Regions from separate parts of the Homo sapiens genome. Here region 1 is linked to region 2. The links come from fine-mapping of genetic effects on gene expression. Tissue or cell type: whole blood. Region 2 holds a variant in brackets; the other region holds the start of a gene. All regions are shown on one strand. Distances are from middle to middle.

The links. PIP is the estimated chance that this variant, and not a neighbour inherited with it, causes the effect.
Region 1: USP20 starts here. The variant in region 2 is fine-mapped to the expression of USP20 in whole blood (INTERVAL, PIP above 0.99).

The regions. Positions count from the first base shown.
Region 1 is chr9:129,834,330-129,837,084 of GRCh38, reverse strand. It overlaps USP20 (ubiquitin specific peptidase 20), which reads right to left and starts at 1,627. Exons shown (of 26, transcript NM_001110303.4): 1 at 1,586-1,627. It overlaps C9orf78 (chromosome 9 open reading frame 78), which reads left to right and starts at 1,810. Exons shown (of 9, transcript NM_016520.3): 1 at 1,810-1,946; 2 at 2,319-2,378. The coding sequence starts at 1,864. RefSeq lists an enhancer at 877-1,377 and silencers at 1,349-1,498, 1,529-1,878.
Region 2 is chr9:129,861,819-129,864,573 of GRCh38, reverse strand. USP20 (ubiquitin specific peptidase 20) reads right to left here. Exons shown (of 26, transcript NM_001110303.4): 9 at 1,275-1,388. Among named protein-coding and RNA genes, the nearest start is that of MIR6855, 6.4 kb to the left of the region's middle. RefSeq lists an enhancer at 1,189-1,358. The variant T/AAT (reference allele first, on the strand shown) is at 1,209.

The sequences.
Region 1 (2,755 bases), 27 kb after region 2:
TTATCACTGGGTCCTCTGGCCTCATGGAGCAAGGGTGGGAGCAGCTCATCTGTACCCTGGGACTTCAGCTGAGGAGGAGGGTCCAGAAATGCCCCTGGCCTTCTTGCCCTTTCCTTAGTAGTGTCCAGTACCCCCTGGTGGATGGGCTGCTTGATGGGCAGATTCAGAGCCACCTCTGAGAGCGTGAGAGCTGCAGACGTTGACCCCCTGGACTCCTGCAGCAATTCCCAAGGAGCCTCTCCATCATCTGACAGGGACTCCGTATCCAGTGAGTGCACGTGCATCTGGGTTTGGCTGAACCAGTCTGCAGAGGGCAAGACTTTGAGACTTTAATATATGGCTTTTGACCAAAGATAAAACGCTGGTGCAAGAAGTCCCGAGTCTACTATTTTTTCCAGCCCAAGGAAGAGAAGAACAATCTCAGTGGAGACTGTTCCAGAGAAAACGTAAGGCATTCTAGAAATGCTGCCCTGCTTCGGAATGGTCTTCCAGAAAGGGGAACCCCAGACAGCCCCCATCGGCCCCTCCCCCTAGCCAATGAGATGTAACAGCAGCTGCAGCAGCAGCAAACATCTACTGCACTCCTACCGTGCCAGGCCCTGTGCAAACCGTGCGGCAGAGACTGACCTGCAACCAATTCCTGTTCCACCTCCTAGCTGGGTAACTTGAGGCGTGCACTGCCCCTCGGAGACTCCGCATTCTCATTTGTAAAACGAAAAACAATCTACCTCAAAGGATTGCTGGGAGAATTCAATGAGATGATGCTTTGCCCAGGGCCTGCCACATAGTAACTGCTTAATAAGAGGTAGTTCTCAAAGTAAGGGATGACACTGAGAAAAGGAAAACTACTGTTACTTAAGGGGTTCTTAAAAGTCCTAGAAGCCATTATTTATGCATTTAGGTATTTCCTAAGCGTTTGCTGATACCAGTTTTTCAAATAAACTTTATCCTCACAGCATCTTCGGGGTGGAAGGGGCAGAGGGTAGAGCGACAGACCTGCCGAAGGAGGAAAACCAGACCCGTGAAGGTCCAGGGGGGTGGCCGGCAAGCACCGAGGAGGAGTCCCCCGGCTCAAACCCTCTTGCGTGGCTTCAAAACATCAGACGCGCCTCTCCTCGCGGAGAAGCTGGGGGCCATTATTTGTGAGGCAGTCGGCGCTGGGACTCTAAGTCAGCACCGCAGAGAAGTGGTCATCTTTTGTTCCGAAAGAAAAAAACGCACGTCAGGGCTCAGAGCCCGAGGAAAGAAAAGTCAGCGCCCGAGACGCGAGACGCCACGCGGATGCTTTCAACGCTAGGTCAGGCCCCGGCAGAAATGAGAGGGGGGCGGCCCCGGTTCTGGAGAAGCCACGAGCCCCCAGGGAGCTCAGAGTGGGGTGGTGCTGGGGCCCAGAGGCCCCCCTGGGCGCCGACCGGAGGAGGGGAGAGGGGCGGCGGCGGCCGGGGGGGTCCCGGGCTCCGCTCACCGGGCCGCTGCGTCTGGCGTACCTGGCGAAGCCAGGCCCTGTCAGCCCGGAGCCGGGCTGGGGTCGCCAATGCTCAGAGGCCCGGCCCACAGAAGCAGCCGGTGGCGGCCCGGAACTCACCTGCACTCGCAACTGCGCCGCCGCCGCCTGTCAGTCAAGCGCGCCCCCTCTGAGGCGACGCGCAGGGTTGTGGGGCCGTCTGGCGACGCCCCACCTCCTTCCCTCTGCCGTCCAATCGGAAGAGGCTGACGCCAGGAGAGGGGGCGTGGCCACGCGGACTGTGCGTGCCGGGGGCGGGGCCAGACGGGGCAGGCGCTCTGACCGCTCTGCCGCGCGCCGGAAGCAGCCTGGGCCGCTGCGCAGAGGCGCGGCGGCTGTACAACTCGGCCGTTGTCACCATGCCGGTCGTCCGGAAGATTTTCCGTCGCCGCCGGGGCGACTCGGAGTCAGAGGAAGATGAGCAGGACTCAGAGGAGGTTCGGTGCGTTTGGGGCGGGGCTCCCATAGGCTTGGTAAAGATAGACTTGTTTGGGGGACTCACCACCGGCTCGGCGCTTCGCTGACATTGTTAACTGTGAGCTCGGGTGGTGGTTCCTTCTGCGGACGCAGAAATTGAGGCTCAAGGGGTGAGGCCACCGCCCCAAGCTCGAACGGTTGAGAGAGATGCCTCCGGGATGCGCAGTGGCTCTGACTCCCGGTGGGTCTAGGCACAAGGTCGTCCTCTGGACCACTGTGCTGGTGGCTCAGTAGCTGGGCTGGGATGCCCTCGAAGGTGCCTTATTGGCTCTGTTAGCTTTGGATTCCGCGGGGAATCACTCAGCTTATGCATTGCTGCTTCTTCTTCTTTTTAAAGATTAAAACTGGAAGAGACCAGAGAGGTACAGAACTTGAGGAAGAGGCCCAACGGGGTGAGGTGGGTACCACGCGGGGAGGAGGAGGAGGCGGCGGGGACGACAGACACATCCGCGTCCGGGTCGCTGTCACAAATATCTCCTCAGACGTAGATTTTTCTCTTGACACACTGTACACCTTCCACTGCCCAACTTGGAGAACAGCGTTCTTTGCAAATGTTTAACCAGGACATGCCCTGAGCTGTGTCGTCTCGGGGTGTGCTCCAGAGATACAGAAACAGATCACTAACTCGCGTTTTTTATTAAAACCAATTAATTGTGAAATGCATATCGATCGTTAAGAGTTTGTATAATTTAGAAAAGTATAGTCAAGACGATAAAAAGCACCCATAATTCTCCCATCCGGAAATGATCAGTGTTAACATTTTTTTTCCTTGCA
Region 2 (2,755 bases):
TCGAACTCCTGACCTTGCGATCCACCCGCCTCGGCCTCCCAAAGTACTGGGATTACAGGAGTGAGCCACTGCACACAGACTTTTTTTTTTTTTTTTTTTTTTTTGAGACAGGGTCTCACTCTGTCGCCCAGGCTGAAGTGCAATGGCATGATCAAGCTCACTGCAGCCTGCCTCAACTTCCTGGACTCAAGCGATCCTCCCACCTCAGCCTCCTGAGTAGCTGGGACCACAAGTGCTCACACCACACTCAGCTAATTTTGTAGTTTTTGTAGAGGCGGGGTCTTGCTGTGTTGTCCAGGCCGGTCTCAAACTCCTAGGCTCAAATGATTCTCCTGCCTCGGCCTCCCAAAGTGCTGGATTTACAGGTGTCAGTGACTGCATCTGGCCCCACGCTGGTTTTTAATCTGCTTCTACATTTAATACATATTTCTCCCATGCTGGTTTGTTTTGTTTTTGTTTTTTTTTTTTTGAGACAGAGTCTCGCTTTGTCAACAGGCTGGAGTGCAGTGGTGCGATCTCGGCTCACTGCCACCTCCGCCTCCCAGGTTCAAGTGATTCTCCTGCCTCAGCCTCCCGAGTAGCTGGGACTACAGGCACACGCCACCACACCCAGCTAATTTTTGTATTTTTATTAGACACGGGGTTTCACCATGTTGGCCAGAACGGTCTCGATCTCTTGACCTCGTGATCCACCTGCCTCAGCCTCTCAAAGTGCAGGGATTACAGGCGTGAGCCACTGCGCCTGGCCCTACGCTGGTTTTTCATCCGCTTCTACACATAATACATATTTCTATGTGCTCATTTAAAATTATTCCCAACTTTGACTTTTCCTGGAGAAACAGATCTAATCACAGACTCTGATCTTTAAATTAATTTCATACTGTGCCAGAAGCTCCATCCAGTCTGTGCTCCCCTGCCCCACACCTCCTTCTACACACACAGTCCTGGCTGAGGCCGGGTCACCATGTCTCTTGGCAAAGACATCTACCAGTGGCTGCTCGGTAGGGTCAACAGTAGGTCAAATTCTAGCTCACTTTTTGCAGGTTCTATGACCTTGAGCAAGATACTTAAAGTGCTCTGCACCTCAGTTTCCCTATTTGTAAAACAGGACTGGATGCAATTTCCACCCCGCAGGCTTGCTGCAAGCATTACCCGGGACAAAGTGAGGCAAGTCCTCGCTGGGGGCTGAATCCACAGGAAGTACTCAA[T/AAT]CATGGGTGCTGACAGGAAACCCCAGTCCCCACACACCGCCCAAGGCTAGGGATGCAGCTGCTCACCGTTTCTTATGCCAGACCTCAGAGACCAGCTTCTGGTAGCTCTTGCACAGGGCTGGCTTCTTATCTGTGCGCACCAGGCCGCCACACTCCAAGAAGAACTGAGTCAGCGGCGGGCTGGGTGCAGGGGAGAGAGAGCCAGGTCAGGAGAGCAAATGAGGCATGCGGCAGTTTAGAAAGGGCTGCATAGCGGGGAGCCCTGAGTGCTCGCACAGGGAGCACAGTGGCCCTGGACCCAGAAACTCCTGAAGGTGACTAGAAGGCTCCTACCAGTTATGAGAAAATTGTATCCTCCAAAATTCATCTGCGAAGCCCTAACTCCCAGAGACAGGGCATTTTTATTTTATCTCATCTTATCTATCTTACCTTATTTTTTTATTATTATTATTATTATTTTGAAACAGAGTCTCCCTCTGTTGCCCAGGCTGGAGTCCAGTGGTGCAATCTTGGTTCATTGCAACCTCTGCCTCCCGGGTTCAAGTGCTTCTCCTGCCTTAGCCTCCCGAGTAGCTGGGATTACAGGCACATGCCACAATGCCTGGCTAATTTTTTTGTATTTTTAGTAGAGACAGGCTCTACTAGTTGGCCAGGCTGGTCTTGAACTCCTGACCTCAGGCGATCCACTTGCCTTGACCTCCCAAAGTGCTGGGATTACAGGCGTAAGCCACGGTGCCCAGCCAAGACAGGGCCTTTAAAGAGGTTATTAAAGTTAAAACGGATTGGGTGCGGTCAATTTTTCTTTTTTTTTTTGAGACGGAGTCTCGCTCTGTCACCCAGGCTGGAATGCAATGGCATGATCTCAGCTCACTGCAACCTCCGCCTCCCGGGTTCAAGCGATTCTCCTGCCTCAGCCTCCCCAGTAGCTGGGACTACAGGTGCGTGCCACCACGTCCAGCTAGTTTTTTGTATTTTTAGTAGAGACAGGGTTTCACCATGTTAGCCAGAATGGTCTCTATCTCCTGACCTGGTGATCCATCTGCCTCGGCCTACCAAAGTGCTGGGATTACAGGCGTGGGCTACTGCGCCCAGCCTGGGTGTGGTCAATTATTAACAATAATTGACCTGCATCCTGCCACCTGAGGATAGTTACTAGGAACATTTTGGGACATAGCCTTCCAGACTTTTCTACGCATTTGTACCCATTCCCTCTCTGCTTCCCGCATACATATACTGCATCTCTAACCTCCACTGGGTAGGAGAAGCACGTCAGACACAGGAGACATCCTTGGCCTCATGGAGCTCACAGCCTTATCCTTAATGGAAAATCGCATTTCTCCCATAAAACGGGATTGTACCATGCAATGCTTTATAACCTCCTTTTTCCCCCACTCACCAGATTCTGAACCCCTTCTTGTTTCAATGCATGTTGTCTTGTGCCATTTTTCCTGCACTTGCTGCAAGGGCTATGAGAATTTATACTCTCTTGCAGATGGGCCTTTAAATCATTTCCAGTAAACAACAGAGCACTGAGCCTCCTTGCACGT